Regions from separate parts of the Homo sapiens genome. Here region 1 is linked to region 2. The links come from fine-mapping of genetic effects on gene expression. A gene starts in region 2. The other region holds a variant in brackets. All regions are shown on one strand. Distances are from middle to middle. Region 1 overlaps DNM1 (dynamin 1). Region 2 holds the start of ZDHHC12 (zDHHC palmitoyltransferase 12).

Region 1 (12,453 bases), 480 kb after region 2:
AGCCAGCACAAGCCTGGAGATGGTGTGCCTGTGTGTGCAACATGTGTGTAGTTGTGTGTTTGTGCCAACACATGCAAGCCCAAGTACATATCCTATCAGCTATTGTGTGTGTGTGCACATGTGTATCTGGGGAGGTGCCCAGCATGAACCATGTGTCGGTGTCAGCGTGTCTGCATCTCAGTGTGGATGTGTGCACACTTTGTGGATGTGTGTGGCAATTGTGCGAGCCTACATGTTTGCAGAGCCATGCCTGTGGACTTATACTGGGGTACACATCTTACCTGCACACCGTGGTACAATGGGCTGTGTGTTTGATTTATCTAGAGCTGTCTGGGAGGAGTTATGTGTATCTGTGCACAGGCGTGTGGGGTGCTAGGCCCATGTGTGTGCTCGGTGTGGGCACATGTGTATGTAGGCTGCTGTGTCCCAGGGGAGGGGTTCAGGGATCTAGGGAGGAGGTACCCCAGGATGGGGCTCTGGGAGAGGGGAGGGGTTTTTGTCACCCATGCCCTACTTGTTCACGGGGGTCGTCTGTGTGGGCCTCGGGGACTCAAAGAGGTTGGGCATGAGCCTTGCCTAGGATCTCAGGTGGGGGGCTGGGTTTAGGGGGACCTTGCTCCCCCGTCCTGGCGTCATCCCGCCCACCCCTCTCTGCCCCCAACGCCCCCCTGGCCCATGCAGCCACATAAAGCCCTCTTTATGCCAGGCGGGTGGCCGGGAGCCCCAGAGGGCGGCTGGGGGAGGAGAGGAGGAAGTTGCACACACGGCCAGGGAACATCTGGAACCGTTCGAGAGAGGCCCCGCCACCACCCGCCCTGTGCTTCGGGGTTGGACACTAGGTAGGAGCGGCCTCCTCCCCCCACCCCTCCCTTCCTGCCGGCCGGCCCCCTCCTCAGGCCCCTCCTTCTCAGCCCCAGCTCCCGCTCACCCCTGCCACGTCAAAGGAGGCAGAAGGGGAGTTGGGAGCAGAGAGGGGACCACGGGCTGGCTGGTCTGGGGCTAGGGGGACACAGGCTGGGGTTGGGGGGTTCTCGGATCTCCAGGGGATGGGGCTGAAGCGCCCACCGGATGGACAGACACTGCTGCCTGGATGGACCAGAGGACACCTCCACTCCGTCTACCCAGTGTTTAGACTATCTGTTCAGGACTCCCAAATTGTACAGTAGTCTGCACATTGGTTAGGCTGGGCTGGGTTAGACCCTCGGCACCGCCGCCACTGGAGAGCTGGACCGACCCCTGCCTGCCATCCCAGAACCGGAGCCTGGAGCCAGGGGGTTGGGGCACAGGGCGGGCTGGGAGGAGGCACAGATGGATGGGGGTGCCACCCTGTGTGGGACTGGTTGGGGGTAGCGGTGATGGGGGAAGGGTGGCCGAGGAAGACTGAGAGGATGGGGGGGTCAATGGGGACTGGGGATGTGGGCAGCCGCCGGTCTGCCCAAAGAGCCTCCCTCACCCCAAAACCTGAGGGCTGGTGGTTGAGTAGAGAAGTACAGACCACTCTCCCACCAGCCTGGACCACCTCCACATCCCCAGTGGTCCTAGTGCAAGAATCCACTCACATTCAACACACACGCACCTTGACACTCACAGCCCCAGAACTCACACACATGAGCACCCCCACACTTTCAATCTCACACCCATGTCCCACACGGACACACACAAGTGCATGCACACACACCCATACACACCCTCACAACTGGAACACTCCCCCCATCCTCACATCCCAAAGACATACACAGATTCTCAAACACCCCATACTCACACCCTCCCTCCTAGAGCCCCCTCCCCACACACACCTGCTTTTACACCCCAAGCACAGGCAGGTGCCCAGAGTCACTCCCCAGGCACACAGATTTCACCCCCAGATGCAAATGCAGACCACATATTCCAAACACACCTAGATGCTTATACTCCAATCACACTCCTAAAAAACACCCACACACCAGACCCACAAGCCACACACACACACACACACACACACACAAACACACCCCGCCTCCCAGCACCCACAGCCCACAGCTGACTCCCATCTCCCCACATATGATTCTCAGAGCTGTTTTCGCACACGACTTAACTCAGATGTACACAAAAGCTCCAGAAAGGCCTGCAGGCTCAGGCATGAGATCAGGGGACCCCCTCAGTGGCACGTGCCCCTCCCCCACAGTGTCACCCGGTCTCCGGCCCTCAGCCCCAGGTCACATGGTCTCCCTGGCCCTGAGTAAGGAACCTCAACATGGGAGACCCCAAACCCATGGGGGCATCTAGGGAGCCTGCAGAGAGACCGGCAGGAAGCCACCCCCCACCCGCACCCCATGCCACTGCACACTCCATCCCTTCCAGGGGCCCCCATGGTGGGGGAGGCCAGGGTTGGGGTAATGAGGTCCAGATGGCTTGGCGCCCCCGCCAGTGACGACAGAGGGCCCCTCCCAAGGTGGAGAGTTGGGGCCCCTGCCCAGGACAAACTTGGAGGAGACAGGGACCTGGGAGGGGGCTTGGAGGCCAAAATCACAGGCCCCACCCAGAGCCCCGCTCCCCCGTTGAGGATGCTGTAGCCTCCAACAGCCCCCTCAGGAAGAAGAGGGTCCCTTCCCCCACTCCTTGGCCAGCTGGAGTTCATTACCACAAGCCCACCCCCAGCCCTCCCCATTCTCTCTGGTCACCTCTGGAATCCAGATGTGAAAGCCAAATAGACTCATTCTTAAAGGAGACCAGCAACAGGGGAAGGAGGTGGCAGGGGCTTCTGTGCACCCTAGTGGGCGGGGAGGGGTTTTTTGTGGCACCTCGGCAGGGCCCCCACACTCCTTGCCCCTCAGCCTGAGGGCACCCTGGTCATTTCCCTTGGACTGCAGGGGTCTAGGGGACTGGGGTGCAGGGGTTAACCGGGTGTCTGGCAGCTAGACTTGTGTGTGTCATGGGCCTGTGGGGGCCACAGAGGAGGCGGCACGCCCTGCAGCGGGAAAACAGGAAGGCTGCTGGGCTGCAGGGTCAGGGAGGGGCACCCAAGTCCCCTGCCCACCCTCCCCAGGGCGCTTAGCCCCAGGCTCCTCAGTCCTGCCAAGCTACCTTCTCCTTCCAACCTGGGTGAGAGGGTGCCTCCCCCTGAACCCCCAGGGTCACCTGCCTTGGACCCTTGCATCCCAACTCCACCCGTGGATCCTTTTTTTTTGAGATGGAGTCTCACTCTGTTGCCCAGGCTGGAGTGCAATGGTGCGATCTCGGCTCACTGCAACCTCCGCCTCCCGGGTTCAAGGCATTCTTGTGTCTCAGCCTCCCTAGTAGCTGGGATTACAGGCGCCCGCCAACACACCTGGTTAATTTTTGTATTTTTAGTAGAGATGGGGTTTCACCATTTTGGCCGGGCTGGTCTCGGACTCCTGACCGCAGGTGATCCACCTGCCTCGGCCTCCCAAAGTGCTGGGATTATAGGTGTGAGCCACCACACCCAGCCTGCCCACGGATCTTTGACGAGACATTTTAAAACCCTATTCCATGGTCTAGCCCACTCCAAGCCCATGGGAGGGTCTGAGCCTGACTCTGTCCACCAGCCCAGCCCCTTGATGACCACTGGCCCTTGACTCACCTCATCATCCTTGTACCAGGACAGATTCTCAGCAGTCAGCACAAACCAGTACTCCTTGGAGCCCCCTTTCATGATGCCAATATTATTGATAGTCAGCCAGCCCTTGCGGATGACCTGGAGGGTGATGGGGCAGGAGGTCAGTGGACAGGGCCTGAGCCTCCCCATGGGGGATGGGGTAGGCAAAGAGAGGCATTCGAAACCCCACCCCTCTCCCAGCTCTCTGAGGCCTGGCAGTCAGGGAGGGTGGGGGCCAGACCTGCCTTGGTTTGAACCACAAGTGAACAGAGTGGAAGACAGAGGAAGGCAGAGATCAGCTCAGGATAAAGAGCCTTTGACAGGCAGACCTGGCCGAGTTAAGGGACTGGAGGCCTGGGTAGGGGATGAGCTCCCTGTCACTAAAAGTATGCAAGCAGAGTTTATGGGGCCGATTGGGGAAGCCAACTGCGAGTCTTGGAAGCTTAAGGTCTCATCTGTTCTGAGATGTGTTTCTGACTTTACACATGCTGCTGCCGCCTCTGCCTAGAAAGCACTTTTTCCTTTTTGCCTGGCAAATTCCTACTCAGCCTTTGAGTATCAGCTCAGGATTCACATTCTCAGGCAGCCCCTTCCTGTCCCCCAGTATAAATCAGGATTCCCATAATGATCTTTGATCACTCCCTGAAGTCGACTTCTGTAACAAGGGCTTCGATTTTTAATTAACTTCTCTACGTGCGTGTGTGTGATTATCTGTCGATGCAGCCTCCCCTGCTAAATCATGAACTGTTGGTCACTAGTACATCCCAGCACCTTGCAGAGGGCCTGGCAGATAGTAAGTGATCAATACATATTTGTAGTATGAATAAATAAAAGCTATGATAGTACGGTTCTAAGGGTCTTTGGCTCCAGGTCCCCAGGGGCAAGGGCTGAGCCACAAAGTGCCTAGAGTAACAAGCTAAGGTCCCTTTTCATGGCAGGAAGCAGCTGTCCCCAGGACTGTCCAGAGCCATGGCCACGGTCCAGGGCCTGTGGATTCTACTTCAGGGGTAGGGTCACTGGCCAGGTACTGGTCATGGGTCAGATCGAGAGGATGAGGCAGCTGCTTCTGCTCCCTCCTGGACGCTGACCTCCCCAGCTTCTTCTCTGAGCATCCAGAGAAGACCCAAGGAGGCCTGGGGCTGGCGGCAAAGCCCTCTGGGGCCAGGCTTGCTTCTGGAGCCCTCCTTATGCCTCTCTGGTTCCCTGAGAACCTCGCTGAGAACCCAAGCTGCACAGCCCAGCAGCAGTTGAGCTGAGGGGAGAACACCAGCTGCCTCTCTCACCCCTTCCTGATCAGGCGAGGATCCCCACAGGGTCTTGTCACTGTCTTTGGAATTGAGTCCACTGTGTCCCACGATGTGACCAGCAGATCTTGCCACCTGCTCCCCACCCTAACTTGTAGTCTTTGTCCTCCCCCTTGGCCACACCCAGCCCTGAACTCCTCTCTGCTCATCCTAAGCCCTCTCTGCAGCCCTGCACCAGGGACCTCCTGCTCTCCCAACTCCCACCCTGCATGGAGCTCTCAGGGGCCTTAGCTGGGCCCTACCAGCAGGCCCAGGTCTCCACGTCCTGTCCAGGGGCCAGCACCGTGTAGGCACCAGCTAGTGTTGGCTGAATTGAATTGTCCTGATACTACATTCATTCCTCCCTTCATTCTGTTGAGCACCTACTGCGTGCCAGGCTAGGGGCTTGAGCTGAGGATTTAATGATAAACGGGACAGACTCAGCCCTCCCCTTATGGGGCCTGGGAAGGAAATAGACATTAAGCCAATAATCACATAAACACCTAGAGTCTTACAAAGAAACTACGGCCTCTGGAACCTATGGAAAGAAAAGCTGAGGACCCTCGGGCTCATGTGTACAACTGAGCAAGCGCTTCTGACGAGGGATGTTTCCGCAGACATCTAAGGACAGAGAGCAGGAGGCCAGGTGAGCAGTGACTTCTTGACTTCTCTTGACTTCTCATTCGTCTCTTCATTCAAGTCCGGAGGCGATGGCTGTCAGCTTCTTAAAAATGTGTCTTGCTCACGTGCATCCCTCCATCCAGCAGATGTTTAAGGAGCACCTACTCCGTGCCAGGCCCAGCCTTCTCACCCACCCAGCCCCACACGGTCTAGCTCTGCCTGAAGTAGGTGCTTGGCTCGTGCACACAGATGGACGGGTGGATGCGGCTGGGCCTGCCTCTGGCCTGAGGGCAGGTGTGAAATGCCAGGGGCTGGTGTGTACAAGCAGCTTCAGCCAAAGGGTGCCCTCCTACCCGTTGCAGATCCCCACTGCCGATGGACCCTCCGCCCCCTCACTACACAAGCCGAGAGCCCCAGTCCTGGTACTCACCAGAATCTCATCCTGCAAAGAGGTAACCATAGCAACCACGAGAGGCATCGGGGAGAGAGGAGAGAGGGTTACTGAGGCAGAGTGGGAGGCTTGTGGCTGGCAGCTGACAGGTCCCTGGCCCCCGTGGGACCCTTCCCCTCAGGGGAGGGGGCTCTCAGAGTCTGGTGTCCGTCCGGCACCCTCCATCCCTCGGGCTGGGGTGCTGGGCCCCACTCACCTGGTTCCCTGAAGTCTTCTTCTTGTTCATCTGGTTGCTCCTCTGCTGAGCACTAATGGGAGGGAGGGGAGGAGTCTCAGAACTTCTCAAGAGGCCCAGCTCTACTGCCCACTGCTTAGTGGGCACAGGACCCAGAGGGTTAACCTAGCAGACCTGGGCTCTACACACACACACACACACACACACACACACACACACACACACACACACACGTTACCTTCTCTGCCCAGGGAGCACTCACTTTTTGCCTGGGGGAGCACTCACTTGGCAAAGCCTATGAAGTCCTCATGGTTGGTGTTCATGTAAGCCAGCTCGATATCGATGAGAAGCATGACCTTCAAGGATACATAGGTTGGTGGGCAAGCGCAAAAGACACCACAAAGTTTTAAAATGCAGGGCAAGCTGGGAGAAAAGTACTTGCAGCACATATAGGAGGTTAGTATCCATAATAAATATAGTCCCTACCATCAGTGAAAGACAAAAGCTGAGCGTGGTGGCTCACACCTGTGATCCCAGCACTTTGGGAGGTGGAAGTGGGAGGATTGCTTGAGCCTAGGAGTTCAAGAGCAGCCTGGGCAACATAGGGAGACCTGTCTCTACCAAAAAATACAAAAGGTAGCTAGGCATGGTGGCATGTGCCTGTAGTCCCAGCTACTTGGGAGGCTGAGGAGGGAGGATTGATTGAGCCCAGGAAGTTGAGGCTGCAGTGAGCCAAGATTGCACCACTGCATTCCAGCCTAGAAGACAGAGCAAAACCCTGAGAGAAAAGAAGAGAGGAGAGGAGAGGAGAGGAGAGGATGAAAGAAAGAAAGAAAATCACAAATTGGCCAGGTGCGGTGGCTCACGCCTGTAATCCCAGCACTTTGGGAGGCCGAGGTGGGTGGATCACAAGGTCAGGAGATCGAGACCATCCTGCCTAACACGGTGAAACCCCGTCTCTACTAAAAATACAAAAAATTAGCCGGGCGTGGTGGCGGGCTCCTGTAGTCCCAGCTACTTGGGAGGCTGAGGCAGGAGAATGGTGTGAGCCCAGGAGGCGGAGCTTGCAGTGAGCTGAGATGGCACCACTGCACTCCAGCCTGGATGACAGAGTGAGACTCCACCTCAAAAGAAAAAAAAAAAAAAAGAAAATCACAAATCAAAATAGTCAAGAACATGATGAATAATTCATAGAAGAAATGCATACATCCACTAAGGATGTGTAAAAAATCCTTACTCTCATTAATAAAGAAATGTAAGTTAAAAATGAGGCTTTTAGCCAGGCGCAGTGGCTCATGCCTGTAATCCCAGCACTTTGGGAGGCCGAAGTGGGCGGATCACCTGAGGTCAGGAGTTCGAGACCAGCCTGACCAACATGGAGAAATCCCGTCTCTACTAAAAATACAAAATTAGATGGGCATGGTGGCACATGCCTGTAATCCCAGCTACTTGGGAGGCTGAGGCAGGGGAATCACTTGAACTCAGGAGGTGGAGATTGCAGTGAGCCGAGATTGTGCCATTGCACTCCAGCCTGGGCAACAAGAGCGAAACTCTGTCACAAACAAACAAACAAACAAACAAACAAACAAACAGAGGCTTTTTAAATGATCAGCATGACACAAGTGTTGGGAAATGAGCTCTCTCATATATTGTTGATGGAAGTGTAAATCAGTATCACCTTCTCTGAGGGCAATTTGGCAATATTTAACAACATTAAAATGCACAGGGCAGGGAATGGTGGCTCATGCCTGTAATCCCAGCATTTTGGAAGGCCGAGGCAGGAGGATTGCTTGAACCTAGGAATTCAAAACCAACCTGGGAAACATGGAGAAACCCTGTCTCTACAAAAAATAGAAAAATTAGCCAGGTGTAGTGGTGTACGCCTGTGGTCCCAGCTACTTGGGAAGCTAAG[A/G]TGGGAGGATCGCTTGAGCCCAGGGATGCAGAGGTTGCAGTGAGCCATAATGGCACCACTGCACTCCAGCCTGGGCGTCAGAGCGAGACCCTATCTCAAAACAAACAAACAAACAAACAATGCACATATTCACTTCCAGAATTGTATCTCACAGATACACTCATCAAGTGAGCAAAGATACATGAGCCAGAGTATTCAAAGTAGTACAGTTTGTAATAGAGAAAAATTGGGAGCAAGCCAGTGGCCATCTGAGGGTGAAATAGATTATGACACTCTCTAGACAAGAAAGCACCCTGCAGCTGTTCAAAAGAACAAGGACAGGCCGGGCGGGGTGGCTCACGCCTGTAATCCCAGCACTTTGGGAGGCCGAGGCAGGTAGATCGCTTGAGGTCACAAGTTCACAAGTTCGAGATCAGCCTGGCCAACATGGTGAAACCCTGTCTCTACAAAAATACAAAAATTAGCCGGGCATGGTGGCATGCACCTGTGGTCCCAGCTACTTGGGAGGCTGAGGCAGGAGAATGGCTTGAACCCGGGAGGCAGAGGTTGCAGAGAGCCGAGATTGAGCCACTGCACTCCAGCCTGGGCAACTGAGAGAGACTCCGTCTCAAAAAAAAAAAAAGAACAAGGATAATGTCCAGGTTCCGGCCTGGGAAGACCCTTGCAAACGATTAAATGTGAACATATTTGGAATTCAGTAGTGATGAGAATGACTTTCCAGATGGGACAAAGACTTCCAGGTTCAGACCCAAGCCCCACTGCTTCCTGTGAGCTTGGGGTCTGTCCTCACTTAGCCTCAAAGTCCACAAATGTAGCGTTTCTGCCTCTTAGAACTGGTGAAGACACAGGAGATGAGATACTCAACAGATGTTAGATATTACAATTATCTTCAGAGGAAAAAGGCAAGGCACACAGCAGGCTTGTGGTTTAGGATAAAGATGGAATCTGGATTGTGTGTGTTTGTGTGTGAGTGCACACGCATAAGAAAATGCCTGCAAGGTGACACACTAAACTGGTTTGCTTTTTGGGGTATTACTGAGGCAGAGTCTCACTGTGTTGCCCATGCTGGAATGCAGTGGCATGATCATGGGTCACTGCAGCCTCCACTTCCTGGGCTCAGGCGACCCTCCCACCTCAGCCTCCCATGTAGCTAGGAATTCAGGTGCATGCCGCCTCACCTAGCTAGTTTTTTAAATTTTTTGTAGAGACGGGGTCTTGCCATGTTGCCCTGGCTGGTCTCAAACTCCTGGGCTCATATAATCCTCCCACCTAGGCCTCCCAAAGTGCTGGGGTTACAGGTATAAGCCACTGTGTGGAGCCCCAAACTGTTAGTAATGGTTATTTTTCAGGAAGAACTAGGGGTGGGGAAGAGTGAATGGAGGGCTATCTCCTTGTAATTTAACCACTTCGATACTGATTGAATGTTTTATTGAGTATTTATGATGTTTGTAATTAAAAAGCAATCAATAAGGATTTAAAAATATGACATCAACAACAAAAACATGAATGAATGGAGATGGCAGCATCATGGAGAGATGTGTGAAAACAGGAAATGGGAAATGGGAGCCAGAGGGGGCTACAACAGACATGTAGGGGCATGGCAGACAGGGATCAGAAAGGAGGACTAGCCTCCGAGCTCCGTGAGGGCCACGATGGGCCCTGCTCACCTCTGCTCCGTGCAGCTCAGAGGTAGCGTTCAGTGGCTATGTTTGTGATTGAAGGAAGAAATGAATGAATATTTGATGAACGATGACATAAAAGGTGGGGGTGGCTATGAGGGGTATAATGTGACCCAGAGAAACAGCAAATAGACAAAGAGAGGCCCAAAGAGAGGACCACAAGGATAGACTGCCAGAAAGTGAAGAAAGCCTGACCAGCCTGGGCACGGTGGCTCATGCTCGTAATCTCAGCATTTTGGGAGGCTGAGGCAGATCGCTTGAGCCCAGAAGTTTGAGACCATCCTGGGCACCATAGTGAGACCCCCGTCTCTACAAAAAAATTTTAAAATTAGCCAGGCGTAGTGGCATGTACCTGTAGCCCCAGCTACTCGGGAGGCTAAAGTCGGAGGATCGCTTGAGCCTGGGAGGTCGAGTCTTCAGTGAACCATGATCATGCTACTGCACTCCTGCCTAGCAGGGGCGACAGAGCAGGACTCTGTCTCCAAAAAAAATAAGCATAGAACCAGCCTATGGCCCAGCATTTCCACTTTTAGGTATATACTCAAAAGGGTAGAAAGTGGGGACTCAGATAGGGATTTGTACACTCATCTTCAAAGCAGTGTGATTCACAATGGCCAAAAGGTAGGAAAAACCCACATGAATAAACAAAGTGTGGTCCATCCATACAATGGAATATTATTCAAGCCTTAAAAAGGAAGCAGCTTTTTTTTTTTTTTGAGACGGAGTCTCACTCTGTTGCCCAGGCTGGAGTGCAATGGCATGATCTCAGCTCACTGCAATCTCTGCCTCCCGGGTTCAAGTGGTTCTCCTGCCTCAGCTTCCTGAATAGCTGGGATTACAGGCGCCCACCACCAAGTCCGGCTAAATTTTGTATTTTTAGTAGAGACGGGGTTTCACCATGTTGGCCAGGCTGGTCTCAAACTCCTGACCTCGTGATCCGCCCACCTTGGCCTCCCAAAGTGCTTGGATTACAGGCATGAGCCACCACGCCCGGCCAGGAAGCAGCTTTTGACACATGCTACAATACGGATGGTCCTGGAAGACATTATGCTAAGTGACAGATACTGTATGACTCCACTTACGTGAGGTCCCTAGAAAAGTCAAATTCATAGAGACAGGCCAGGCACGGTGGCTCACACCTGTAATCCCAGTACTTTGGGAGGCCGAGGCGGGTGGATCACTTGAGATCAGGAGTTTGAGAACAGCCTGTTCAACATGGTGAAATCCCATCTCTACCAAAAATATAAAAAATTAGCCGGGTGTGTGGTGCGTGCCTGTAATTCCAGCTACTCGGGAAGCTGAGGCAGGAGAATCGCTTGAACTCCGGAAGCGGAGGTTGCAGTGAACCGATTTCATGCCACTGTACTCCAGCCTGGGCAACAGTGAGGCTCCGTCTTAAAACAAACAAACAACAAATTCATAGAGACAGAAACATGAATGGTGGCTGCCAGCTGCCGGGAGCTGGGGGAGCAGGGAATGGGATGTTAGTGTTTCATGGGGACAGTTTCCGTTTTGCAAGATGAAAAGAGTTCTGTGGGCCAGGCGCGGTGGCTCACGCCTGTAATCCCAGCACTTTGGGAGGCTGAGGTGGGCAGATCACTTGAGGTCAGGAGTTTGAGACCAGCCTGGCCAACGTGGTGAAACCCTGTCTGTACTAAAAATACAAAAATTACCCGGGCATGGTGGCGCACGCCACCTCCCAGTAGCCTCCCAGCTACTCGGGAGGCTGAGGCAAGAGAATCACTTGAACCCAAGAGGCGGAGGTTGCAGTGAGCTGAGAGATCACACCACTGCACTCCAGCCTGGACGATAGAGCAAGACTCTGTCTCAAAAAAACAGTTCTGTGGATGGATGTTGCTGTGCAACAGCGCAAATGTACTTAGTGCCACTGAACTGTGCGCTTAAACATGGCTAAAGTGGTATGTTATGTGTATTTTACTGCAATAAAAAAGAGAGAGAAGCAGAGAGTCAGTATGAGACAGAGGAAGACTGAGACAGAAGAGACAAAACAAGAAGGAAGCAACCCCAGGGCCAGGAGTGGAAGGCGCAGGCGGCCAGGAGTGGAAGGAAGGCGCGGCCAGGCCGGGTGCTGCGGGGCTCACCTGCTCCTTAGTGCGGCCCTCGCGCTCCCGGATGTGGGTGGTCACGATGCGCTCCATCTCCTCCCGTAGCCGCGGGTACTGCTGGAGCTGGGGAAGGGCAGGAGGGCAGAAAGCCACGTACACAGAGGGCACGGGCAGGGAGCACCCACACCCCACGAGTCCAGGGATCCGCGGCGCAGGGTGGGAGGCACACACAGAATGCCCACAACGCGGGGAAGAGAGACCTAGGGTCCCAGGACGCTGATGGCACCAAGCCACGGCCACCCCTTTCCCCCAAGTGTGGGTTCCAAATGGTGATTCAAGGGTCTTCCTGGTTCCGGGCCCTCTTCACTGGCCTACCTGGGCAACTTCAGGGCAGAGGGGTGGTTCCCGTGGGAGAAAGGCCATGGGAATGAGCCTGCCCCGCAGACTGGTTAGGTTAAGGCCTCTGGGGACCGTTAGCTCCCAAGGTGTTCCCTCATACTCAGGGCTACCCTGTGCCTTCCTAAAGGCGTGGAGGGACAGCTAGATGGGGAATCAGGCAGGGGACAGCCTCTGGATTCCTATCCAGGAGGAATCGGGGGAGGACAGGGCCCAAGGTGCCAGTTGGCCTCCTGAGTCAGGCTGGGACAGGCAATGCTCCTTGTCAGAGCTGG
Region 2 (14,187 bases):
CGGTGGCTCACGCCTGTAATCCCAGCACTTTGGGAGGCCGAGGTGGATCACGAGGTCAGGCGATCAAGACCATCCTGGCTAACATGGTGAAACCCCGTCTCTACTAAAAGATACAAAAAAATTAGCTGCGCTAGGCGGCCGGCACCGGTAGTCCTAGCTACTTGAGAGGCTGAGACAGGAGAATGGTGTGAACCCAGGAGGCAGAGCTTGCAGTGAGCACAGATGGTGCCACTGCACTCCAGCCTGGGTGACAGAGCGAGACTCCGTCTCAAAAAACAAAAAAGAAATGATACGGTCACACCCTTTATAGGCCACCGTGAGTGTGTGGATTTTACCCTTTATGTGAGGTTTTAAGCCTGGGCATCAGGACCCAATTAAGCATTTCTGGAAGCTGAGCACTGACTCCTCCCACAGCCTCTGTGAAGCCGAGGTCCCCTCTTCTCCACCCCCTGCAGGGCCTGGACCTGGCCTCTCTCTCCCCTGGCTGACAGCCCCCTGCCACTGGCCACCCACAGGACCTGGGCAGGAAGGGCATCAAGTGGTTTGCCTCAGAACCCTGGTGGGTCGTCTGTGCCTCGGAGGGAATGAGGGCAGTGCCTGCCAGCAGCAGCCAACACTGCTGAACCTTATTCTGTGTCCCAGGCCCCGGGCTAAGTGCTTCATGTACCTTCCGCTTCCTCAGAACCCTGGCAATAATCCATTTCACAGACAAGGACACTGAGGCTCAGAGAGGTGAAGTGACTTTACTTTTTATTTTTTTCAGACAAGGTCTCACTGTTGCCCAGGCTGAGTGCAATGGCACGATCACAGCTCATTGCAGCTTCGACCTCCTGGGCTCAAGCAATCCTTGCACCTCAGCCTCCCAAGTAGCTGGGACAACAAACGTGCACCTCCATGCACATCTAATTTTTGTTTTTTTGTAGAAATGGGGTCTCACTGTGTTGCCCAGGTTGGTCTCAAATTCCTGGGCTCAAGCAATCCTCCCACTCCAGCCACCCACAGTGTTGAGATTACAGGCATATGCCACCATACCTGGCCTGACATGACTTATTACCTCAAGGTTGCCACAGTAAAGGAGGGAAAACAAGATCCTCAGATGTGCCAGGTGCTCCTCCTCTAGCTCGCTGGCCTGATACTTGCCATTTCCTGTGTCAGGAACACTCTAGTTCCTGCTCATCCCATCACAGCACCTACTTATCTCATGGGGCTGAAATTGCCTTGTCTCGTCTCCCCCACTGGACTGTGAGCAACAAGCCACATCAAGGCTCTGCTGTAGCCCAGCACAAAACCTGGCACATGGAGGGCTCTCCTTTTAAAAACCTGTGGCCAGGCTGGGTACAGTGGCTCAGCCTGTAATCTCAGGACTTTGGGAGGCCAGGGTGGGCGGATCCCTTGAGGTCAGGAGTTTGAGACCATCCTGGCCAAAATGGTGAAACCCCGTCTCTACTAAAAATACAAAAATTAGCTGGGTGTGGTGGTGCACACCTGTAATCCCAGCTACTCGGGAGGCTGCGGCAGGAGAATCACTTGAACCCAGGAGGCAGAGGTCACAGTGAGCTGAGATCGTGCTATTGCAGTCCAGCCCAGGCAACAGAGCAAGACTCCATTGCAAAAACAAACGAACAAAAACAAAAACCTAGGTGACGGGATGAGCTGTGCAGCAAACCACAGTGGCACATGTTTACCTATGTAACAAACCTGCACATCCTACACATGTACCCCTGAACTTAAAATAAAAGTTGGAGAGAAAAAAAAAAAGAAACTAATTTTGCCGCTCAGCACCTTCAAACATGACCTACCTCTCCAAAATAGACTGATGTCTAAACCATAAAGCCATTTTACTGAGTCTCCCTAAGAAATGTGACCTCTGGCCGGGCACAGTGGTTCACACTTGTAATCCCAGCACTTTGGGAGGCCGAGGCAGGCGGATCACAAGGTAAGGAGTTCAAGGCCACCCTGGCCAACATGGTGAAATCCTGTGTCTACTAAGAATTTTTAAAAAATTAGCCAGGCGTGGTGGCACGTGCCTGTAATCCCAGCTACTTTGGAAGCTAAGGCAGGAGAATTGCTTGAACCCAGGAGGCGGAGGTTGCAGTGAGCCTCAGATCACACCAGGGAAACAGTACGAAACTCCCTCTCAAAAAAAAAAAAAAGTGCTGGGCACAGTGGCTCACGCCTGTAATCCCAGCACTCTGGGAGGCCAAGGCGGGCGGGTCATCTGAGGTCGGGAGTTTGAGCCCAGCCTGACCAACATGGAGAATCCCCATCTCTACTAAAAATACAAAATTCGCTGGGCATGGTGGCGGGTGCCTGTAATCCCAGCTACTTGGGAGGCTGAGGCAGGAGAATCGCTTGAACCTGGGAGGCAGAGGTTGCAGTGAGCCGAGAGCCCGCCATTGCATTCCAGCCTGGGCAACAAGAGCGAAACTCCGTCTCAAAAAAAAAAAAAAAAGTGTGGTGGGATGGGAACTTACAATTGTGATCCTTCCTCTGTCCATTTGAGATGAGTGTGTATCTCCTACAACTCAGAAGTGTCTTTTTCAAGGACCTGAAGGCCATTCTATTGAAATGTAATATCAGGAAGGACAGAGCCTCTGTCTCCCAGTCTCTGCAGGAGAACAGAGTCCTAACTTTCACCATTGCCAGCGAGCACGCGGAGCTGCCTAATCACATTTACCATGACCAACCCTTTGGAATTTTTCATTTCCCTTATTCTGCTGAAGCCCTCACCGTTTCCCTCCACTCCCTCATTCTCCCTTTAAGCCAGACATGGTGGAGCACGCCTGCAGTCCCAGCTACTCTGGAGGCTGAGGGGGAAGATTGCCTCAGGTCAGGAGTTTGAGGCCATAGCGAGACCCCATCTCAAGAAAGCAGAAAACCAAAACCACAAAAAACATCAGTCACCTCTGCACAAACAGAAGTTTCAGTTGGTTCACACTGGGCTCTCCGCCCTATCAGTAGTATATTGTTAATTAAAATCTGGCCTTACTATTTGAACTAGTGTTGGGATGTTTGATACTAGCACAGTGCCTAACCCACGGAAGCTTCAGAATTATGTGCTGAGTGGATAATGTGCTGGATGTCCCCACTGAGCACATCAGATCCTGCACCCAGTGCAGTAGTCAAGACTTAGCTGCAAATGACAGACACCCAACTCAAACATCTACTCAGGCTAGTCAAAGGTGGGAATTGGGGCCAGGCATGGTGGCTCACACCTGTAATCCCAGCACTTTGAGAGGCTGAGTTAGGCAGATCACTTGAAGTCAGGAATTCGAGACCAGCCTGGACAACATAGTGAAACCCTGTCTCTACTAAAAATACAAAAATTAGCTGGGCGTGGTGGCATGTGCCTGTAACCCCAGCTACTTGGGAGGCTGAGGCAGGAGAATCACTTGAACTTGGGAGGTGGAGGTTGCAGTGAGCCCAGATCGCGCCACTGCACTCCAGCCTAGGCAACAGAGTGAGGCTCTGTCTCAAAAAAAAAAAAAAAAAAAAGGTGGGCATTCATTGACTCTTGCAACCAGGGGATGCAGAGTCAGTATCAGCTTCAGGGACAGCCGGATCTAGAGGGCTCAGACAATGTTGTTCAGACCATCTCTTGCTCCCTCCTTTAGTGCTGCTTATCCATCTCTATGTGTCTTTATAAGTTGGTCTCATTTTCTCCAGCCACAGACAGGGTAAGCCCTCTCCGCCCAGCGTAAAGACGGCTCCCAGTTGCCTTATATCCCATTCCTTAGGCTTGAGATCCAAAAGAATGCTCCTTCCTCTCAGCATCTAGACAGTAATCTCATGGAAGGCCTGTGATTGGTTCTGCAGAGTCGAAAGCCCACAGCCTGCCGCTCGCCATCCTATGGGGTGAGGGGCAGTCCCTCCAATCACATGGGATGGGAAGTCGATTCCCCAACCAAAAAAAGGATGTTGAGCTGAGAAAAACAACAGATGTCAGAGGAGTATCCTGGAGGAGCTGGGATGGGGCCAATCAGAGGGAGGCGGAGGAGGATGCTGGTATCAGTGGGAGGTGCTGTGGAAAGGCGGGGCTGAGTGGAGAAGGCCCTGGGGACACAGGGAAGGAGGACAGCCTGCAGCCTCCGGTGAGGAAAGTCCGCCTGTAGGTGGTGGCTCACAGCAGGAGAGGCAAGACAGTCCCGTGCTAGACAAGGCGCTTCCATTATTTAATCCTCCCAAACACCTTAGGAGGAAGACACTATTGTAATCCCCCTTATAGAGACAGAAAACAGCTCAGAGGGGCTCAGTAACTCGCCCAGGGTCACACAGGTAGGAAGGGGCAGTGCTGGGATTTCTGACTCCCGCCTAAGTTGGATCACCCATAGTCAGAATGTGCACCACGTACCTCCACTTTTCTCTCGTCCGTTTGCAATATCTGAGAATACATAGCAAGGAGGTAAAGCTGTCACCACAGAGCAACCTTGGGCGAGCCTTGGCCCTCTCGAGACTTTAGTCATCACATCTTTGAAATGGGTACAATTTTGCCTCCCGGACTCACAGCAAGCCGCTGGATCTTCGAAGCGCCCAGGGAGCTACGCGCATGCGCGAGGCTGCGAGGGCGGGCACAGGGGAACGCGGGGGAGGGCACAGCGGAGCGCGGGGGAGGTGCGCGCGCGCTCCGGCGCTTTCAAAAGTTACCTGGCGGGTGGGGCTGGAGTTGAGGGAGTTACCAGCTGCGCGCGCGCCGGCCCCACCCTCAGCCTCTTCAGGCACCTGTTGGCTTGAGGGTCCATTCGGCCGCAGATGCCATCCAATAGGCAGCCTCCCTGACCCAGTCCGGCCCCGCCCAACGCCTAGATCCACCAGTCCCCGGGCGGCGGCGTTCCCCTCCCTCGGAGGGCCCGCCCCTCTGGGCGCTTCTTCCGGGTGGGGCCCCGGGCCGAGGCGATGGCGCCCTGGGCGCTCCTCAGCCCTGGGGTCCTGGTGCGGACCGGGCACACCGTGCTGACCTGGGGAATCACGCTGGTGCTCTTCCTGCACGATACCGGTGAGCCGGACCCCGAGCGACCCCGGACCCACCCGATCCCGCGTACTTCCCCAGACGTTCTGGTCACACTGGGTCTCCCGCCTAATCCCTGGAGATCCTGGGATTGGCCCGATCTCCACCAGCTCCTGAAGCCCTCTCCCCATCTATCATTCCAAGAGCCACCTGCTCTCTGTCTGATACCCCGTTGATCCCTAATTAATCCCAGCATCTTCCTGATCATTGCCAAATGCCCTGTCCATCCCAGGACCCAGCCGGTGCCCACCAGATCCAAGGACCGACTTGAGCCCCATGTCCCCTGATCCTGGGACCCACATGATCCTTCCCAGGAACTGACCCCAAATCTTCCTATCCATACGATTAGGAGGCTCAACTAGATGCAAAGATTGGCATTCTGCCCACACCCACACCCCCCACACCCCCATGGCCACTAGCTGCCCAAGTCCAGGCAAACCCTCAGGCCAGAGAACACTCCATGGGGTGCGGCCTGTCTCCCATCTTCCCACAGATTCACCCACCCACCCACCTCCATTTCCCTCATTCCTCTTAGTAGCCCCCTACCCAGCGCCTCACCTGCCACAGGCAGCCTCCCCCACTGTCCCCCACAGCAGACCCCAGCCCTCCTTCCATGGCGGTCCAGCCTCAGTTTCTGGACTGGGGCCCCTTCTGGCTTTCCTCCCAAGACAGACCTCCTCCACCACCTTCACCCTTTAGCCTAAAAACTTGCTCAGGTCTCCGTATCAGAAAACCCCCCTCAAAACCCACCCTTTCTTCTCTGCTCCCCCTTACAACCAAGGGACACAGGATTTGTCTACACTCTGCTGTCTGGTGGTCTCATGCCCCCTCACTCCTTGCCCTGCACCCTACCTCCCCAAAATCCTGTCACCTCCCTGGGCTGAAGCCTGCTGGACCCTTCCGTATGCCCCTCTGCAGCATCTGAGCCTGCCAGCTGCACCCTTCCCACTGTATCTCTCTCAGGCATTTCAGACCTAACCAGTCTCTCACCATTGCAGAGCCAGAGACGCTGGACCCCTCTTCCCTCTCTCCCACATCCAGTCAGGTCTGGCTCCCTTGACCCAGCAGCCCCCTGTCCATTCCTTCCTCCCTCACTTCCTGCCAGGCCTTTGTAGCGACTCTCTTCTTCCTCCTGGCCAGATTCTCTGCCCCCAGGCTTCCCCTGATCCATTTCTTTAGCAATGAGGTTTTCCAAAACAGATCTGGCTCTATAACCTTCCATGGTTCCCTCTGACCCTCCAGATAAAAGTGCAGATGAACTGCTGGCCACACACAGCCACTCATGGAACCAACATCTCCAGGCCTTTGCTCAGCCAGGAACACACTTCCCCACCTCCAACTGCACCCCAACCCCACCCACTCCTGTTCTACCCGGCCCAGCCTCACTGTGCTCTCCGGCCTCTCCAGAGCTGCGGCAATGGGAGGAGCAGGGGGAGCTGCTCCTGCCCCTCACCTTCCTGCTCCTGGTGCTGGGCTCCCTGCTGCTCTACCTCGCTGTGTCACTCATGGACCCTGGCTACGTGAATGTGCAGCCCCAGCCTCAGGTAACCAGGGGCCCCTACTCTCACCAACAGGGACCTAACAACCAGCACCAGTCTCCATGCCAGGCTCTGTGCTGCAGGCTCTTGTGGGAGCAGTTCAGTGACTCCTCTTGCCACCCCTAGAGCCCCATCTACAGTAGTGAGGAAACTGCTGGGCCCCAGAGAAGGAAGAGACTTGCAAACATACACAGCCGCCCTCAGTCCAGGGTGCTCCGCCATACCCCACACCTCCATTCTGCATGGGATGGGTCCCAAACTCCATACCCAGAGCTAAGCCGGCCCCTAGGGGAGCTGCCCGCCAATGCCATCTGTCTCCCAAGGGGACCCTGTCTTACACCCCACCCCTCATTCCAGGAGGAGCTCAAAGAGGAGCAGACAGCCATGGTTCCTCCAGCCATCCCTCTTCGGCGCTGCAGATACTGCCTGGTGCTGGTGAGTGATGCACGGACACCCGTGGGAGAGGTTGGGCCAAAGCTGAGACTCCTCGACCTCCTCCTGCCCCACTGCCTGGGCCTCGCCCCTCCTCCAAGAAGGCCTTCCAGAATCAGGCCCTGATTCCTTCCCTCAGTGGTGGGCCCACAGCAGGGCTGGCACTGAGCCTCCACTCTCCTCCATGCCCACAGCAGCCCCTGAGGGCTCGGCACTGCCGTGAGTGCCGCCGTTGCGTCCGCCGCTACGACCACCACTGCCCCTGGATGGAGAACTGTGTGGGAGAGCGCAACCACCCACTCTTTGTGGTCTACCTGGCGCTGCAGCTGGTGGTGCTTCTGTGGGGCCTGTACCTGGCATGGTGGGTGCTGCTGCCCGGGTGTAGAGGGAGGGTGGGATGAATGCTCCCACAGGGGTGGACAGAGCCAGGACTCCCAGGGACCCGGCATGGGGAGGGAAGGGCTCCCCTGCCCTCCCCCAGCACCAGGCCCCTGTCCCCTGCACCGCAGGTCAGGCCTCCGGTTCTTCCAGCCCTGGGGTCAGTGGTTGCGGTCCAGCGGGCTCCTGTTCGCCACCTTCCTGCTGCTGTCCCTCTTCTCGTTGGTGGCCAGCCTGCTCCTCGTCTCGCACCTCTACCTGGTGGCCAGCAACACCACCACCTGGGAATTCATCTCCTCACACCGCATCGCCTATCTCCGCCAGCGCCCCAGCAACCCCTTCGACCGAGGCCTGACCCGCAACCTGGCCCACTTCTTCTGTGGATGGCCCTCAGGGTCCTGGGAGACCCTCTGGGCTGAGGAGGAGGAAGAGGGCAGCAGCCCAGCTGTTTAGGGTTGCTGGAGGCCGGGCTACCGTCTTGTGCCTGAAAACCACGGGGCCTGTCCCCAGCTGGGGTGAGCGCTCAGAGGGCCTGGGGCCCTCACTCCTGCCCACGCCTCCCAGACCCCAGAACGGAGCTTCAAGTCAGACAGATCCCTGCCTTGGTGGGCAGTTCTGCCTTCCAAGGAAGAAGGGGAAGAAAAGGACCTGTGGGTGGCTCAGGCCCAAGCAGACCCCGGGCTCCACCCCAGCCCCGCCCAGGCTGCTGCCAGTGCACACTTTTACAAATTTAATATAAAGCAAGTCCAGTCTTAAAAAGACAAACCATATCACTCCTTGCTGCGGCACCCTTTCTGGGCCAGGTCTCGCTGGGAGGTAGAAGAGGGCGAGCTGGAGGGGGAAGGGACACACTTTGCCCAGTGACACTGAGCAAAGCCCACAACAGTGGCCCCATGGCTGCCACTTTGAATCCCAAGGGCTCAGAAGTACCCAGCAAGGCCTGGACCTCCAGGCAGGGCGCACGGGTGAACGAGCAGAGGCTCTAACAGTCTGTGGGGGAAGGGGACAGAGGTGCCAGGAGATGCCCTCAGGGTTCCAGGAATCGCTCTGACACAAAGTCGAAGTCCCGGAAGGCGGCCTGTTGGCGGGCAGTGAGGAGGCTGTGGGGTGCAGGTGGGGTCAGGGCAGGCGGCAGCCCTGTGAACTCGCCCTCAAAGTAGCGCAGGTCCGCAGGGCCACACAGGGTAGGCACGAAGGGGGGCTGGATGGTGCGGGCGAGCAGGGCTTGCCAGTTGGTGGTCTGAGGGCAAAGGAGAGGCGCCTGAGACGGCAGGAACAGCAGCTCCAGGAGTCACTCCATGCCACCTACCCTGCCAGGCACAGGGGACCACCGCCACCCCAGCCGCTCACCCTGAAGAATGGCTGGACCTTGATCTCCTCGGCATCCTGCTCACCTGCCCCGAGGCGCTTCTCCGGGCACTTCTGGAGGAGCTGGGCAATAGGACAGGCGCTCACTTAGGGCATTCAGCCCCAGGCACTGCCATCATCCACAGGCCCCAAGCACGCTGGCCCAGAGCGCTCTAAGGATGGGTGGCAGGGGGTCTGCTGTCCCACGGCAGAGGGCACATGGGCCTTGAGCGGCCATCCAGCCCAGCCCCAGACCCCGCAGTGCTTACCTTCTGAATGAACTCAAGCCCTTGCACCGACAGAAAGCCGGGGTAGGGGGCGTCCATGTTGACGATGCAGTCAAACACCTCTTCCTCTGTGTCCCCTGGGAACGGGCACTGTGGAGATGGGGGCTCAGCAGGATGCACGGGCCACCCCACCCCCACCCAGAGGCCCAGGAAACAGGCTCCAGCACTCACCTCACCCACCAGCATCTCGTAGAGCAGCACACCCAGCCCCCACCAGTCCACAGCCCGTGTGTATGCCTCCTGGGTCAGCACCTCGGGAGCCAGGAACTCCGGGGTGCCACAGAAGGTGCTAGTCCGGTCCCCGAAGCCGATCCCTGCAAACCAACAGGCACACCAATAGCTGCTTGGTGTGGCCTATTCACAATAACTTCAATAGCCAAGCCTTATGATGCCAGGGAGCTGAGCCTGTGCCAAGCCCTGCCCTGTACCCAAGGAAGTGGGAATGGTTATGACGCCATTTGACTGCATGCAGAGCCAAGCTCACAGGCTAAGGTCACAGAAGGCAGAACTCGGCTGGGTGCGGTGGCTCACACCTGTAATCCCAGCACTTTGGGAGGCCGAGGTGGGCAGATCATGAGGTCAGGAGTTCGAGACCAGCCTGGCCAACATGGTGAAACCCCGTCTCTACTAAAAATACAAAAAATAAGCTGGGTGTGGTGGCATGTGCCTGTAATCGCAGGTACTCGGGAGGCTGAGGCAGGAGAATCTCTTGAACCTTGGAGGCAGAGGTTGCAGTGAGCCGAGATTGCGCCATTGCACTCCAGCCTGGGCAACAGGGCAAGACTCCATCTCAAAAAAAAAAGAAGCCGGGCGCAGTGGCTCACGCCTGTAATCCCAGCACTTTGGGCGGCCAAGGTGGGTGGATCATGAGGTCAGGAGATCGAGACCATCCTCGCTAACACAGTGAAACCCCGTCTCTACTAAAAAAATACAAAAATTAGCCAGGTGTGGTGGTGCTCGCTTGTAGTCCCAGCTACTTGGGCTGCTGAGGCAAGAGAATCGCTTGAACCCAGTAGGTGGAGGCTGCAGTGAGCCGAGACTGCACCACTGCATTGCATCCTGGGCGGCACAGCAAGACTCCGTCTCAAAAAAAAAAACAAACCAAAAAAAAAACAGAAGGCAGAACTCAGTCTCCTCTCCCATCCCTGACCACAGGCTCTCCCTTGGGCCAGGTGCAGGCTGGGGCTACGAGCCTCTAGGACTAGGAAGAAAGGGCCAGTGTGCCCAGCTGTCCCCTGGAATGAGGTCTGGGGTGGTGGAACCAGGGCATCCGCAGGTGAGGAGATTTCCTGGGACATGCCATGTGCCCATCATCCTATTGGCCAGGGTGGGTAAACAAGGCTGGAGATATGGATCCCAATGGGCGGCCCCCACCTTCCTTGCAGAGTCCAAAGTCTGCGATCTTCAGGAATCCCTGGGCATCCAGCAGAAGGTTATCCAACTTCAGGTCCCTGAGGGCAAGGGTGCAGATCAAAGGGACTGAGTGGGGCTTAGACCCAGGGAACAGTAACGGCCCCTGGAGCAGCCCAGGCAGGCGGAGGCAGCATCTGTCCTTACCCACTCCACCCCCACCCCCACCCCTACCCCCGTGCATCCCTGGGACAAAAGTCACCTGTAAATGATCTTCTTCTCGTGTAAGAACTGCAGCCCCAGGACAACACAAGCCACGTAGAAGCTGCAGGGGTGGTTATGGGAGAACTCAGGCCCAAGACACACACCAGGGAGGCAGGGCAGGGAGGCACCAGGATGGCCATAGCGGGGGGATCCCGGATGTCCCGGCCAGAGTCAGAGATGAGTGAGACTGGGACAAGCATCATGCTGAGGGTGGGGGTGCTCCAATAGTCCCAAGGTCGCCCCAAGGTTGCGTGCATTTCCAGCTCACCCTTCATGGGCCCTTAAATGGTGCCAGGGACCAAGTGTTGGTCCCTGCAGTGGATATTCATCATGCCTATTTTTTTTTTTTTTGAGACGGAGTCTCACTCTGTCACCCAGGCTGCAGTGCAGCGGTGCGATCTCGGCTCACTGCAACCTCCACCTCCTGGGTTCAAGCAATTCTCCTGCCTCAGCCTCCCAAGTAGCTGAGACTACAGGCACGCGCCACCACGCCCAGCTAATTTTTTTTTTTTTTTTTTTTTTTTAGTTTTTATAGAGATAGGGTTTCACCATGTTGGCCAGGATGGTCTTGATCTCTTGACCTCATGATCCACACGCCTCAGCCTCCCAAAGTGTGGGGATTACAGGCATGAACCAACGTGCCCGGCCTTTTTTTTTTTTTTTTTAGATGGAGTCTCACTCTGTCGCCAGACCGAAGTGGCGGGATCTCGGCTCACTCCAACCTCCGCCTCCTGGGTTCAAGCGATTCTCCTGCCTTAGCCTCTCAAGTAGCTAGGATTACAGGCGTGTGCCACCATGCCTAGCTAATTTTTGTATTTTTAGTAGAGACAAGATTTTACCATGTTGGCCAGGTCACGAACTCCTGACCTCAGGTGATCCACCCGCCTCAGCCTCCAAAGTGCTGGGATTACAGGTGCCCGGCCAATCATGCCTATTTTTCAAATAAAGATCTGAGACTCACCAGGTGTGGTGGCTCACGCCTGTAATCTCAGCACTTTGGAAGGCCGAGGTGGGCGGATCACTTGAGGTCAGGAGTTAGAGACCAACCTGACCAACATGGAGAAACCTCGTCTCTACTAAAAATACAAAATTAGACAGGAGTGGTGGTGCATGCCTGTAATCCCAGCTACTCAGGAGGCTGAGGCAGGAGAATGGCTTGAACCAGGGAGGCGGAGGTTGTGGTGAGCCGAGATCATGCCATTGCACTCCAGCCTGGGCAATAAGAGCCAGACTCTGTCTCACAAAAAAAAAAAAAAAAAAAAAAAAAAGAAACCTAATGCACAGCTTCATAAGCTGATACCCAGGATCACAAATGCTGTCAGTTGGTGCCAGGATGTAAACCAAGGCCTCTGACTCCTGCTCCCCTGCTGTTGGGCACTTGGAGAAAGCAGTATGTAGAGAGTGGGTGTAGGGAACCAGGCAAAGTTTGCTGGAAGAGGCAGGCAGGAGGGATGGAACCCACCGGGCCTGGGGCTCGGGGAAGACATCCTCGTGGATCTGCATCATGAGGTCACCACCAGGCACAAACTCAGTCACAAAGCAGGCATGGCTGGAGGTCTGGAAGCAGGCAAGGAGGGAGAGCAGGAAAGGGTGCCCTGTGCAGCCCACAGCCTCCAGGATCCGCTTCTCGCAGTACAGGCTACAGGAGAGAGCAAGAGTATTAGAGGGAAGGAAAACTTTCCCTGGGCTGTGCCCTGTGCCCTGCACAACACCCCTGGCTCACTGGGCCCTCAGCCAAAGTGCCAGGCAAGTAGACTGATGGTTTCTTTTCATTTTTTTTTTTTTTTTGAGACACAGTCTTGCTCTGTCGCCTGGGCTGGAGTGCTGTGGTGTGATCTCAGCTCATTGCAACCTCTGCCTCCCGGGTTCAAGAGATTTTTGTGCCTCAGCCTCCCGAGTAGCTGGGATTATAGGAGTGCGCCACCACGCCCAGCTAATTTTTGTATTTTTAGTAGACGCAGGGTTTCGCTGTGTTGCCCAGGCTGGTCTCGAACTCTTGGCCTCAAGTTATCCACCTGCTTCGGCCTTCCAGAATGCTGGGATTACAAGTGTGAGCCAGTGCGCCCAGCCTTTTTTTTTTTTTTTTTTGAGACAGGGTCTCACTTTCTTGCCCAGGCTGGAGTGATGTGGTGCGATCTCGGCTCACTGCAGCCTCCGCCACTGAGGTTCAAGTGATCCTCCCACCACAGCTTCACGAGTAGCTGGGTGTGCACCACCACGCCCAGCTAATTTTTGTATTTTTTGTAGAGGCGGGTTTCACCATGTTGTCCAGGCTGGCCTCGAACTCCTGGGCTCAAGCAATCCTCCCACCTTGGCCTCCTGAAGTGCTGGGATTACAGGCATGAGCCACTGTGCCCAGCCTCCCCCTCCTTTTTTTTTTTTTAATTAGTTTTTTTAGATGAGGTCTCATTCTGTTGCCCAGGCTGGAGATCTCTGCTAACTATAACCTCTACCTCCTGGGCTTAAGCAATCCTCTCACCTCACCCTCCCAAGTAGCTGGGACTAAAGGCACATGCCACCATGTCTGGCTATTTTTTATAGATGGGGTTTCACCATGTGATTCAGATTGGTCTTGAACTCCTGGACTCAAGTGATCCGCCTGCCTTGGCCTCCCAAAGTGCTGGGGTTACATGCATGAGTTACCACGCCTGGCCATAGAGTGATGGTTTCTATATGTCAGGGGCTCACAAGGAGCTCTGAACGTGCACAGCCACCAATGCCCCCATTTTACAGTAGAGCAAACTGACAGAGAGAAGAGGGGACCTGCCCAAGGAAACACAGTTAACAACTGCAGGTGCCAAAAGAGAATGCAGGCTGGCTGGCCCCACGGGGTCACCTCTCCAAAGCCCCAGGAACCTTCAACTGCCCTCTGGATGCCACAGCCCAGGCCAGCCATCCTGGGTGCCCTGCGGCACCCCCACACACCTCTCTATCTCGTCCCGGCTGAGCACCTCCTGCTTCTTCAGTGCTTTGATGGCGTAGTATTTCCCTGTCCCCTTGAACTGGACCAGGAGGACCTGGGGCCAGAGAGAGGTTGTGCTCCAGGTGGGCCAGACCAGGGAGCCTTTACCGCCCCCACAGATCAGGTCCTCCCGGCTCATGTGATGAGGCCCCCAATCCCGTCCCATACCACCCTCTTCAGCCCACTACCTTCCCAAAGTGTCCCCGGCCCAGCACAGCTAAGCAGCGGAAGTCCTGAAGCCGAGGGGGTTTCCTGCAAAGGAAGAGAGGGTATATGAAGTCCCCTAGGGCACTGGCTGGGCCCCTACCCAGAGCCACTCCAAGCCTCCCATGCCCAGTCCTGGGCTGTCCCGACCTATGGGCTCGAAAAAGCCCTGCAGTAAGGACTCCTAGAAGCCGGCATAGAGCTGGAGCTCAATAATGTGGGTTTAGTAAATCAGACCCCGAGAGCCAGTCAGCGCACCCGCCAGGGAGCCAGGGAGTAATGTATGAATGGATACACAAATGTTCAAGCAAGCAGACGAACGTCTCAAACATGAAGGTGCGCAGGATGGGGTACCTGGTGGGGGAGGCTGGTGGAGATGGCCCACGTCGAGTCCTAGGCTCCATATGGGGACGTTTGGTG

The links. PIP is the estimated chance that this variant, and not a neighbour inherited with it, causes the effect. A credible set is the group of variants that fine-mapping cannot tell apart.
Region 1: its variant is the best candidate, but not a certain one, in a credible set for the expression of ZDHHC12 in T cells (TOPMed, PIP 0.88).

Annotation. Positions count from the first base shown.
Region 1 is chr9:128,233,473-128,245,925 of GRCh38, reverse strand. It overlaps DNM1 (dynamin 1), which reads right to left. Exons shown (of 22, transcript NM_004408.4): 11 at 11,819-11,905; 12 at 6,411-6,481; 13 at 6,147-6,198; 14 at 5,930-5,941; 15 at 3,581-3,694. MIR199B (microRNA 199b) reads left to right here and starts at 1,096; the gene lies at 1,096-1,205. MIR3154 (microRNA 3154) reads left to right here and starts at 896; the gene lies at 896-979. The variant A/G (reference allele first, on the strand shown) is at 8,038.
Region 2 is chr9:128,714,800-128,728,986 of GRCh38, reverse strand. It overlaps ZDHHC12 (zDHHC palmitoyltransferase 12), which reads left to right and starts at 4,860. Exons shown (of 5, transcript NM_032799.5): 1 at 4,860-4,993; 2 at 6,413-6,549; 3 at 6,901-6,978; 4 at 7,170-7,336; 5 at 7,485-8,114. The coding sequence starts at 4,894. The coding sequence ends at 7,806. PKN3 (protein kinase N3) reads right to left here. Exons shown (of 22, transcript NM_013355.5): 13 at 14,122-14,187; 14 at 13,752-13,815; 15 at 13,527-13,618; 16 at 12,064-12,240; 17 at 10,600-10,662; 18 at 10,362-10,438; 19 at 9,159-9,301; 20 at 8,970-9,077; 21 at 8,704-8,784; 22 at 8,071-8,593. The coding sequence ends at 8,381. It overlaps ZDHHC12-DT (ZDHHC12 divergent transcript), which reads right to left and starts at 4,525. Exons shown (of 2, transcript NR_046240.1): 1 at 4,352-4,525. RefSeq lists an enhancer at 1-251 and a silencer at 4,492-4,971.